Homo sapiens: one gene and its partner. The protein of the gene in region 1 purifies or fractionates together with the protein of each later gene. This does not show direct contact. Each region holds a gene or a part of one and is shown on either strand. Other genes may lie near its edges.

What was found. Proteins that work in one complex are often made in the same cells at the same time.
Region 2: the proteins of FOXP3 (region 1) and SMYD2 purify together in Homo sapiens (affinity purification with mass spectrometry; 2 studies listed by BioGRID and IntAct, with this or other methods). This does not show direct contact.

What each region holds. Positions count from the first base shown.
Region 1 is NC_000023.11:49,249,938-49,255,117, forward strand, and holds the end of FOXP3 (forkhead box protein P3), read right to left. Parts: intron 4,131-5,180; coding exon 3,980-4,130; intron 3,266-3,979; coding exon 3,189-3,265; intron 1,829-3,188; coding exon 1,727-1,828; intron 1,547-1,726; coding exon 1,397-1,546; 3' UTR 501-1,396; downstream 1-500. Other genes in the region: CCDC22 (coiled-coil domain-containing protein 22), read left to right, coding at 211-324. UniProt on the Homo sapiens protein: Transcriptional regulator which is crucial for the development and inhibitory function of regulatory T-cells (Treg).
Region 2 is NC_000001.11:214,276,727-214,284,158, reverse strand, and holds the start of SMYD2 (N-lysine methyltransferase SMYD2), read right to left. Parts: upstream 3,001-7,432; 5' UTR 2,905-3,000; coding exon 2,732-2,904; intron 1-2,731. UniProt on the Homo sapiens protein: Protein-lysine N-methyltransferase that methylates both histones and non-histone proteins, including p53/TP53 and RB1. Specifically trimethylates histone H3 'Lys-4' (H3K4me3) in vivo. The activity requires interaction with HSP90alpha.

The sequences.
Region 1 (5,180 bases):
GAGGCTTCAGCTTAAAGATGTAGGGGGAATCCTGCCACATGGCGAAGGATGCTTTGGGTAGAGGGAACACCACACGAGGCCTGGCCATGGGACAGAGCAGGCTGTTGGAGTTGGTGGGAGGGGCCCAGAGTGGCTGTGATGGGGGCTGGTGAGCAGGAGCTGGGAAAGGGGCTGTGTGTGCTGAGGGGGCATGTGTTCACATTGCCTCAGATCGAGACAGAGCTGGGCAAGAAGACCCTCAGCAACCTGGAGAAGATCCGGGAGGACTACCGAGCCCTCCGCCAGGAGAACGCTGGCCTCCTAGGCCGGGTCCGGGAGGCCTGAGGAGCCGCCGGCAGAGGTCTCTCCCCAGCCTCAGGCAGGGATTTGGGGTGCTGGAGGCAGTGGCCAAGCACATGCCCTAGCTACTTCCTCCGCTGTCCAGTTCCTCCTGCTGCGGCCTTGGACCCAGACCCCTGCCCACTGACCGCAACCCTTATATGGGGTGATAGTCCAGCATGTGGGGAGCTCGGCTGCAGTTTATTGGGGACGGTACTGTGGGTTGGGGGCCTTGGATCCCAAATAAATGAGTAGTTCCTCTGCAGTCTAAGCTGAGGCATGGATCAGGGCTCAGGGAATGGGAGTGAGGTGAGTGGCAGGGGAGACACGGGGTATTTTTGGCAAGGCAGTGTGTGTGGCTGTGTGTGTCTGCACGGGACTCAAGAGACCCACTGGGGGGCTGTGCGTGTGCATATGCGTGAGATACACAGGTGAATTCTAACAGGCCGTGTGTGTGAGCGAGCACGTGTTGGGACCTCAGATCCTGAGGGTACTGACGCTGCTTCTGTGTAGGCCTCTGGGCACACCCCTGTGTTGACAGTGCCCCTGTGGGCCCTGAGGCTGGCTGTGGGTGCGTGCCTTGGGGTGTGTGGGTTGTCAGGGCTGTGCTTGTGTGTGATTGTGTGATGATGCAGCTTTGAGGTTGTTTGAGTGTACTGAGGCAGGCTCTCTGTGTTTTGGGGTTTGTGTTGAGTGAGGGACAGGATTGTGACATTTTGTGTGTCTGTGTGACTTTTCCAGCCCTGAAGTAATCTGTGCGAGCAGCTGAGGCAGGCTCTGTGTGGCTGGTTGTGAAGGCTCTGTTTGGCTGCAGGGCTCGACTGGGGGGTGTGTCTGGGGCGGAGGTGGGGGCTGGGGCCAGGACCGGGGCCCCTCTGAGCAGCCTTGGGGCAAAGGATATGATGGGGGAGGGGGTGGCTGCCAGCGGGGGAACAGGGGCCCTGGCAGGCAAGACAGTGGAAACCTCACTTCTTGGTCCCTGTGGGCACATCCAGGGCCTATCATCCCTGCCCCCACCACCTCTGCCTCCCACCAGTTTGGCCCCTGTTCGTCCATCCTCCTTTCCTTGATCTTGAGGTCAGGGGCCAGGTGTAGGGTTGGAACACCTGCTGGGCCTCTGGCTCCGTTTCTTGCGGAACTCCAGCTCATCCACGGTCCACACAGCCCCCTTCTCGCTCTCCACCCGCACAAAGCACTTGTGCAGACTCAGGTTGTGGCGGATGGCGTTCTGTGGAAGGCCGGGGACAGGGAGCAGGTGGGCGTCAACCTCTGAGGCCAGCAGCCACCACCAACAACCCACATCCCGTTCCTCCCCAATGTGCCTATGAGCCCAGACCCAGGCCTGCCCACTTTGAGCTGCGATGGCACTTGAGGCCATCCCAGTCACCGCCACCTCAGAGGAGCTCACCTTCCAGGTGGCAGGATGGTTTCTGAAGAAGGCAAACATGCGTGTGAACCAGTGGTAGATCTCATTGAGTGTCCGCTGCTTCTCTGGAGCCTCCAGGATGGCCTGGAAGTTGGGGGGTGGGGTAAGGGGCACATTCCCCAAACTTGGGGTTTAGAGGGGCTATGACCTACCCCGAGCCATCTGACATGGGGGCGGAATTGTAGGGGCAGGTAATCAGGGACAGGACTAGATGTGGGGTGAAGCATGGGGTCAAAGATGGGGTTAGAAAAGGGGTGAAGTGTCGGGTTGGGCAGGGTTAGATGGGTGTGGGTATGGTTGTTCTGGGATTAGGTAAGGGATCAGGACTGAGGTTGGGAGTGGGGTCTTGTTCAGGGCTAGGGCTGAAGTGAGGTGAAAGGTCTGGGATGGAGTTGGAGTTGGGGTTCTCTGTGGAGGTGACATTTCAGGGTTGGGGAAGGTGAAGGGTCAGAAGTGGGGTCAAGGATTTGGAAGGGGTAAAGGGCCAGGCCAACTTAAGGGTCAGGGAAGGGGTGGGTTAAGAGTCAGGCTGGGGTGGACTCAGGTGGGGGGTCTAGGGGTGAGGGATGGGATGACTTGGCTTTAGGTCAGAAGCCAGAGATGGTTTGAATTATCGAGTATCTTACGTGTCAGGGACATGGTTAGGTGGTTAGGCTCAGGGCAAGGATGAGGTTAGTTGTGGGGTTCGGTGTGGAGTGAGGCTGAGGGTCAGGGAATTTGATCAGTTTGGATTCAGGAATGGGATTACAGAGTCAGCGATGATGATTGCAGTGAGGCTATCAGTCAGGATGGGGCTAGGTCAGGGTTTCAGTTCAGAGACAGTCGGGGAATATCTGGTATCATGTAGGGGTGAGGTTCAGGTTTGGGGTTAGGTGTGGCGCTAGGATGAAGGTTCTGAGAAGGCATTGGGGAGGCTGAGATGAAGGAGTTGGGATGGGGTGATGAAGTTAAGGATCAAATGGGTGTTACAAGGAAAGGTTGGGAATGGTGCCCAGTTGGGGGTGTATTGACATACTGGGGTACGTTGGGGCCAGGGAAGGAGATGGGGTTGGGTTGGCATAAAGGCTGGGGAAGGAGTTAGAGTAAGAGCTGGGGTACGTTTAGGGCAAGGTGCAGAGATGGGGTTAGCTTTAGGCTATTTTATGGGTCCAGGAGAGGGTTAGGTATGGGGCTGAGGTGGACATCTGGAAAGGGGTAGGTTTAGGGTCAGAATTTGGCATGCTCTGGCCTGGATGGTGGTTTAGGTTTGGATTTGCGGACAGGTTTGGGGTGAAGCCAGCATGAGGGGTCACATTTGAGGCACGGCTTGGGGATCCTTGGGGCTGGGGCTTGGGAATGGAGGAACCCACTCTGAGGGCACTCAGAGGGAGACAGGAGTTTGGGAGGCAGGTCCCCCACCCCATCTTTGTCTTCCTCCTCCTTGGGGCCGAGCTGCCCTGCTTACCCAGCGGATGAGCGTGGCGTAGGTGAAAGGGGGTCGCATGTTGTGGAACTTGAAGTAGTCCATGTTGTGGAGGAACTCTGTCAGAGGGTGGGGATGAATCAAGCCCCATGCAGGACCTCCTAGCTAGCTCCCTGTCCCCTCCCCCTACAAGGTGAGTCTACAGGCCTGAGATCTCACCGTCAACACCCGTGTCCACGGGCACAGGTACTGTTTGCTGAGCACCTGACATAAGTTGTATCATTTATTCTTTGCACCACTTCTGCCAAAATAGTTCTCCCCGAGGTTGAAAAGAAGCGGAGTAACTTGCACACCAAAGGATGCAAGAGGTTAAATGGCAGAGCCAGGATGACAGTCAAGGTCTCTGATCCCTGCTAAGCCCACAGGCCAGGCCTGGTGGAGAGCAGTGGATAGGTGAGCTCGGGCGAATCCACCCCGATTTTCCTTGGTCAGGGGAGGAAAGGAGGTGCTCCTGGAATTACTTAGCAGGGTCCCTCCCTTCTGATGGCCGAATATAGTAGCTGGAGTCCAGAGTGGGTGAGGCATGGCCCCAATCCCCAAGGGAGTCAGGGCTAGGGGCCCGACACTCGAGACCATATGGGGGGCTTTCAGGCCACGGACATCCCGAAAGGAAGCTTTTGTGAGCGGATGCATTTTCCCAAAGGCTGAGTGGCGGCAGCTGCAGTGGTGGTGGTGGTGGGAAGGGGCAGCATGGAGCTCCTTTGCACCCTCCACCCAGAGCCTGTCAGGATTAGGAGCTTGGGGGCACCGTGTAGTGCAAGGACCATTCTTACCTGGGAATGTGCTGTTTCCATGGCTACCCCACAGGTGCCTCCGGACAGCAAACAGGCTGTCAGGGGCCTCCCGGGGGCCAGACCAGGCTGGGACGACAGGGCCTTGGCTGCCAGCAGCTACGATGCAGCAGGAGCCCTTGTCGGATGATGCCTGGGTGAGGGGGAGAGGCTGGTGACCCAGAGGCTTAAACTTCCCACTTTTTACTTTCTATTTTATGTTTTTTATTTTTTTTGATACTGAGTCTTGCTCTGTCGCCCAGGCTGGAGTGCAGTGGTGCAATCTCGGCTCACTGCAACCCCCACCTCCCAGATTCAAGCAAGTCTTCTGCCTCAGCCTCCCGAGTAGCTGGGACTACAGGTGCCCGTCACTACGCCCAGCTAATTTTTGTATTTTTGGTAGAGATGGGGTTTCACCATGTTAGCCAGGCTGGTCTCGAACTCCTGACCTCATGTGATCCACCCGCTTCAGCCTCCCAAAGTGCTGGGATTACAGGCATGAGCCACTGCGCCTGGCTCCACTTTATTTTTAAATCAGTGTTTTTCAAAGCAAGGACGCCCTCTTCTAAATTCCAGTCTGAGGTGGAATCCCACAAAACAGCATGAGCCGTATTTATTAGAGCACAGGTGCGGATGTCGTATGTGGCCACTGATGCTGGGACCATGAACTGGGGTTGAATAGGGCTCTTTACCACCCAACTGTGACCTTGGGAAAGTCACCTAAACCCCCCTGGCCTCAATATTCCTCATCTGTACATTCGCATCATGAGAAATAAATTACCACCAGCAAAGCGCTCAGAAACAGTGCCTGGCCTCCAGGGCTGGCTTCATGGGCGTGTGACCTATGTGGTTATGTGGCACCCTGTGCTTTGTTTAATGCTCTGTGGTCGCCATCTTGAAATCTGAACAAGGGGCCCTGCAGGTTACATAGCTGGTCCTGCTGGCACACAGCCTGCATCTGGCAAGTCTGGCTATTTGCATTTGCTTTAACAACTCAGGATCACAGTGTTTGGGGATCTTAGAGTCAGAGGGTTTTTTTTTTTTTTTTTTCTTGAGACGGAGTCTTGATCTGTCGCCTAGGCTGGAGTGCAGTGGTATGATCTCAGCTCACTGCAAACTCCGCCTCCCAGGTTCAAGCAATTCTCTGCCTCAGCCTCCCAAGTAGTTGGGACTACAGACACCTGCCACCACGCCTGGCTAATTT
Region 2 (7,432 bases), on another chromosome or scaffold:
AGCTTCCAAGTGGAAAAACTTTATATAATATTATTAGGAGCTGCCTTCTAGCAGTTCAGGCAAGATACGCATGTTCTCCAATGGCACCCACCAGACTGAGAAATGTGATACAAATTAAAAATTCCCCAAAGCAAACCTTTGTCTGAATTGCCCTGACCGTAAGAATCCCATTCTGTTGAGACTTAAGACATTTTCCATTATTTCTCAATTTATAGCATATACTTATTCCTACCTAAAGAAATCACTTTTCTTTTCTTCAAAAAAAGTTAGATCCTGATACAATTAGTATGACATGGAAATTCTTGGGTCATTCATTTATCTTAAGCAGTATTGTTTATGTTAAACTTCTGGCAAAAGAAAGGATAAGGGGTAGCTTTCTTTTGGGTGTGTGGAGCTGGGGCAGGCAGCAGATTTTGACCTGTAAGTATGAACATTTCCAGAATTCTACTCCTATACTTTGAGGCCCTATGGAGGAAAATACACGTTCCCCTCATACATCTGGACAGACTGATTTGTCCTAAGTCATATACAAATTGCTGACAGAGGAACTGATGCTGAATCTATCAGATGACCTAACCACTAATAGTAAATGATTCAGATTTAATAGAAATCATGAAGTAGGGTACAAGGATATTTCTAATTGCATAAGTATCATGGATATTATTTCTTTTGTATTATTTTAATTGACTTCAAATAATTCTTTGGGGAGAGAGAGGAAATAAACTACGGGTATTGACATAAGGTCAGGGAAATCAAACAGAGAAGTGGTTTGCAAGTTGTAATAACACCCCATTGCAAGTTGCAGCCCTGGTGAGGGACCCAAGGCAACAGTGAGTAACACTAATAAATGTCAATCAGAAAAATTTAACAACAAAAGAGGCAGCAAACTGTCACATATGGCAGAATAATCCAGGCTGAATGCTTTGTGAACTTGCATCTGACCATCCATTAATGTTCTAAGGTTGGGGGTATGCGTAGTAGATACAATTAGGAGACTTAAAGCTAAAGAGAAGCATCTCTCAGTTCTTCTCATCCCTTCTAAATCCAGAGGGATTTGATCTTTCATTCACTGGGGGCCAGGGCTGGCAACTACCCATATAAAGTAAGCACCTACTATGTGCCTGGCATCCATGGTCTTAGGCGATGGCTTCCAGGAATTGCCAGGATCCCTGATGGAGGCTCCTTCTGTGCTGCCTGACCTGCTTTGCTCCTGCCACTGCAGACACCCACGCTGCTGCAGACTCCGAGCCACAGCAAGGCTCAGAAGATCAAGGGACCAGTCACAGCAGCCTTTTTAACTTTGGGAAAACCCAATGCTCACTTCACTCAAACGTTGCAAAGTGGTGCCATGACCCTTTAGCTCTTGGCTCACCAATTCAAAGAGCCACATCACATACAGCCCTTAAGCTGCCCACGGCATGATTCCGTGTCTAGTTCCTTTCCAGGTCCCCCCAAGCGGAAGACAGTTCTGGCAGGGAGTCTGGGCAAGATTACTACAATATTTAGCCTTTGTCCCTTCTTTTGCTACGTCTTATTGTAGAATGAGGCACACAGGTCTGAGAGATTGAGTATGCTGGACTTGAGACCTGTACTCAAAAGGTCCCTGCAGGACCGCAGGTCAGCTTAATCCAGCCCAGGAATCTCCATTTCAAAGATGAAGAAACTGAGGTTCAAAGAAAGCAAATCATGGTCTCTACTCAGAGTACTGGAAGGCCTGATATAAACTTAACCCCAATGCCATGCCTCCTGCCTTAGTAAATTTACTGAGCACCTAACCAGTGAGAAATAGGCAGAAGTGAATAAGGCCAGATTTCACTCCCTTCACTACTGGTGTGAATGGATAAAGGTAACTCCACTTTCTCTCTGGGCTTTAGTTTTCTCATCCATTAAGTGAAAGACAAGACTGAATTGGTGATTTCTAATGTGCCTTTAAGCTCTGAAACTCTCATAAGAGTTGAGGATATAATTATGTGTTGGTGTGTGCAAATGTATATGCATCATATATACAAACACAGACACATATATACATATGGTATCTTACAATTAAATACCATTAGCAACCACACATCTTGCCCAATCCCTTCCTGCGACCATGTTTTCCTAATCCCAAACCGAAACTGGACACTGCAACTCATCGTCGCAGCACCTCAGAATCCAGGGGGTGTGGTCAGTGCCCACTGGCGTCCCTCCAAACACCCATGTAAGCGTACTTTAACATGTAAGCGTACTTTACAAGACATATACTAAGTCATTAAATTCCTTGGAAGAAACGGCCAATCTGAGGCAGGGCTGGACTGTGGGTAACAGAACACACCGCAGGAAGCATAAGTTAAAGGTGACAGCCCGTGGCTGCCCAAATTTGGGGCTCCGCTGCCAATGCACCGGGAGGGCAGTGAGTGCCCAGGCTTGGAACAAGCCTGGCTCGGAGCCCACATTTGAGGGCAGGAACCTGCACGCCCGGGTTTGCGCATCCAGCGTGAGCAACTCTGAAAACGTGCAGTGCAGGGCGTGCAGCGGGGCACCGGTCCTGTTTCCTCTCGCACGTGGCGCCTGGCGTGGGGCTGCAGCGCGGGGCCGCAGCGCGGGGCCTCCTCCCCTCCCCGCCCCCCACCCCGCCCCAAGGGCCGGCGCTAGGACCCCGCGAGCCGCACGCACTTCCTGGCGCCGCCGTCCAAGCCTCCCGCTCGGCGCCCCCGGCTCCCGCCCGCCGCCGCCGCCGCCGCCGCCCTACCTGGTGAAGCAGTACTCGCAGTGGTTGCCCCGCTCGTTGACCGTGAGCACGTAGGCATAGGCCGGGCAGGAGAACAGCAAGTCCCCCACCTGGAAGGGCTGCAGAGCCCGCAGCCCCCGGCCTTTGCCCGGGCTGCAGAAGCGCTCCAGGCCGCCGAGGCCCTCGGCCCTCATGGTGGCGGCGGGGCGCGGCCGCCGGCTGTGCCCGAGCTGCGGCTCCCGGCGAGCTGTTATTGGAGACGCGTCACCTAGAGCTGCGGGGGGCGGGGTGGGAGCCGCCCGGCGGACGCGGCGGCGGCTCCCCGCTCCCCGGAAGGGAGGGCGGCCCCGCCCGGGCCTCGCGCGCCCCCGCGGGGAGGGGGACGGGCCCGGCGGCCCCGCCTAGCGCCGCGACCCTCGGCGGCCGCCCCGCGCGCGCTCCGGGCCGTTTCCGGTGTGGCCGCGACAAAGAGCCGCAGCCCCTGTGGCTTCTGCGAGGAGGCGTGAGGCGTGTGCGCCTCCGCGGCGTCTCCACGGAGCGAGCGGGACGCGCCCTCCTCCTCGGTGGGAGGGAGGGGGGTCACCTGCGGGGACCAGGTATCCGAGGGCCACCCCTAGACAGTCAGCCTGGCCCGAAGGATGACCAGCCCCCGGTAAATAGAAGGGGGCGAAGCCAGCTCCGAAACCTTACGTTCGCTGTCCCTTGTAAAGACCCTAGAGGCAGTGATCGGGGAACGCCAAGGAGAAAGCGGCAGAGGGGAAACCACAGTAGAGAAGTTTGGTGTGCAGAGGGTTGAAGTGTGCTTTTCCAAGGTTAGAGGTTTTTAAACCTTGTGGCTTTAATGGGAACGTAGTTTGCCCTCTGCTCCTCTAGTGGAATTACATGGACGGAAGAGGAAATGCATTGGCCGGCCCAGCTCACCGAGTCTCTGAGGCATGCTGCGAACGTTGCAGAGGAAGCCAGAGAGAACCTTGCCTTCAAGGAATTTAGGCTGTTGGGGGATAATGCGATGCTGTGGCCAGTGTCCAGGACACTGCGCTAGAGTTTGCAGTAGTTTTAATATGCTTGACCACCCACGAACTGTGATCTTAGAAAAGTCACTTGGGTTAGGAGTCAAAGGATTTAAAGCCCACAAAGCCTGAAACGTAAATCCTATACACATGCACGCTATTACTTTTCATATGAGAAAGGAAAATATAATCCGTGTTCCACATGATTATGTAAAGACTGGAATTGATGTACATGCAGTAAAGACTAAAATTGTGACGAGATCATTTAGCAGAAACCACTACTTCAAAATAGGACCTCAAACAGTTACCTGTGTAAGTTCAGGACTGGTTGAGCAAAGGGAAAGGATTAATATGATTGGAGATGTAAAATCAGTGGAATTTTTGGCATTTCAGTAAAATGTCTTTATCAGCTGGGTGTGGTGGCTCAGCCCTGTAATCCCAACACTGTGGGAGGCCAAGGTGGGAGGATCATTTGAGCCCAGGAATTGGAGAGTTGGAGACCAGCTTGGGCAACATAAAGACCCCGTCTCTATGGGAAATTAACCACCTCTCAAGTGGTGCTGAGGTGGGAGGATAGCTTGAGCCTGGGAAGTCAAGGTTGCAGTGAGCTGTGGTGACTCCATTATACTCCAGCCTGGGTGACAGAGCAGGACCTTGTCTCAAAAGAAAACAAAAAAGCCCTTATTAGTGGCAAACTAAATAAGCCTCTAACCCGTCTTCAAGTAAAGGAAGTTATGATAGTATTTTCATTTATGCATTTTAAGAAACTTCGACTGACTATGGCCAGCAACTGGGATAGAAAGATGGACATCAGCCGGCTGTGGTGGCTCACGCCTGTAATCCCAGCACTTTGGGAGGCCGAGGTAGGCGGATCACCTGAGGTCGAGAGTTCAAGACCAGCCTGACCAACATGGAGAAACCTCATCTCTACTAAAAATACAAAATTAGCCAGGTGTGGTGGTGCATGCCTGTAATCCCAGCTACTCGGGAGGCTGAGGCAGGAGAATCGCTTGAACCTGGGAGGTGGAGGTTGCTGTGAGCCAAAATCGCACCATTGCACTCCAGCCTGCGCAAGAAGAGCGAAACTCTGTCTCAAAAAAAAAAAAAAAAAAAAAGTGGACAAAATGTAGTCCTAGGTCCTTGCATTTGGCACATTCAAGTTTGATAATACCATTAGTTATTGAGTATTGTTGACCAGGCATCGTGCTCCATCATTAAACACATTATCTGGTTTATCTTTACAACAGGCTAATGAGTTAGGTATTATGCCCCTCATTGCCAAAATTAGGAAGGAAACTAAGACCCAGAAGGAATGATTTTCAAGGCCACACAATAAATTGCAGAATTTGGTTTCCAAGTCAGTCTGAATTCAAGGTCCATGTTCCTAACCACAGTGTTTTGCTGCAAACAAACACAGTTCACTGGGATAAGTGCAGTTATGGTGGCTTGTACAAAATGTTCTGTGGTAGTACAGGCAGGGAGTGACAGCTTTAGCCTGCTAAACAGTCAAGACAGGCATCACATTCAAGTAACGTTAGAGCTGAGCCTGAAGGATGGACAGGATTTTGCAAGTGGAGGTGGGGAGAAGAGTTTTCTGGGCAGAGAGAACTGCGTACAAAGACAGAAGACCCTGAAAGCACAGAGCTTGTAGTTGGGGGCCCCTGAGCATCTGGAAGAGAGGACAGGAAATGAGGCAGGAACAGCTGAAGAGCATCTTCTCCAGAGGTGAGTTCTGCCCCAGAGGCCATGGGAGAGCCAGTTAAAGCGTTTAAGTGAGGGGTGGCACATTGAGTCCAGTGTTTTAGACTGATCTGCCAGCAGCATTGTGGGTTGGCTGGGGTGCCAACATTCAGCACTTCATAACTGTTTACATGTATATAAACAGCCTTGGCATGTGAGACCACTGACAGTTTGCATTTGTCTGTGTGATGACCTGATTAGTGTTTACATCCTCCACCAGACTGTACAAGCTCCATGAGGGCAGGGAATGAGTCTGTTTTTGTTACCCTTACATCACCAGCTCTTATCACTACTCCTGGAACACAGAGAGAATGGAAAAAATATTTAAAGGTTGAATAAACGTCATGGAATCTCATTCTGATTTCTGGGGGCTCTAACCAGCAAAAAGATGAAAAGACTGACGTAGAAGTAAACAATTACAATACAGTAGACAGTTTACTGTTTCAATGATTAATTGTGCAAAGTAATCTACCTGTTTACTTTTTTTATTGCAAGTAACTTTTTCCACTTTAATTGGGAAAGATTTCCACAGCTGAGAAAAAAGCAATTACATAGCTACCGAATTATCTTTCCAGATGAGTGCTGGCTTATTCTTGAGGGTGGAGGTGACTGTGATTTGAGAACACTGGAAAAGAAACCGCCTCATTTCAGAAAAATCCCTGTGATGAACTTAAATGACTCGAGATGGGGAAATGGTCACTGAAGCAGTAGCCATGAATTTAGGAGCTTAAATTACTAAGAAAACTGTGTTTAAAATAAACAGCCAAAGAATGGCAATAAACCAGCCCGGGGAGACTGATGACAGCGCTCTTCATGAAGCCCATACTTGTCACTCTGCCACTCTGTAATCTCACATTCCGTGAAGTCTTTGAGCAGCCAGGACCCATCCACTTTTCCTACGCCCTCTGCTCCATAACGTAGGAGGTATGGAATTTGAAAGGAGTGTTTTTGGTTACTTTGCCTCACTGAAACTCAGGAGAAGTGGTACAAGGACGAAAACTCCTTTGCTTAATTTCTCTAACCTAGAAGTTGATCTAATTTATGAGTAAAAGATCCTTCCAACCACAGATTAGCACATGAAAGAAATAGCTCTGGCCTAGGGAAATGAAGCCTTAGCAAAGAAGGTATCCCAGTGAACGTGAGCAAAGGGCCTAGATGCTGTATAGTTCTGCATCTATGTCTACATGTCACTTATTGAGGACATACTATGTACTTACACTGTGATAGATCCTAGTCATACCAAGGTGTAAAGACCAACATACATGAAAACAGTTATGAAGTGCTGAATGTTGGCACTCATAGATATTAGGTTCCAATCCCTGGAATCTATAAATGGCTTCAAAGGGTCTTGCAAATGTGTTTTAAGGATCTTGAGAGAGTGAGAGTATCCTGGAACATCCAGGTGGGTTCTCTGTGCAGTTGCAAGTTTTCTGATGAAGGACAGAAGGAAATTTGACACAGACAGGAGAGGAGGCAGCAATGTGACTATGGAGGCAGTGATGAGAGGGATACAGTGATGGGCTAAGGAATGCTGGCAGCCACCAGAGCTGGAAGAGGCAAGGAACACCTTTCCCCTAGAGCCTCGGGAGGGAGTGTGGCTTTGCCAATACCCTCACTTCAGCCTGTTAATCTAATTTCAGACTTCTGGCCTCTAGAACTATGAGAGAATAAATTTCTGTTGTTTTAAGACACCTGTTTTGTGGTAATTTGTCATAGCAGCCACAGGGAGCTAATAAAATAATCCAATAAAATTTTAATAGGGAGCTGAACAAAGTGCAGTAGGAAGGCTTCACAGAGAACCTGACATTTTAGCTTCTAGAAGGAAGAGGAAAGATTGACCAAGGGAAAGCAAAGTTCCCAAAATGGGCTTAAGACTAACAGTGCAGAGCTGGGCATGGTGGCTCATGCCTGTAATCCCAGCAGTTTAGGAGGCTGAGGTAGGTGGATCACTCGAGCCCAAGAGTTTGAGACC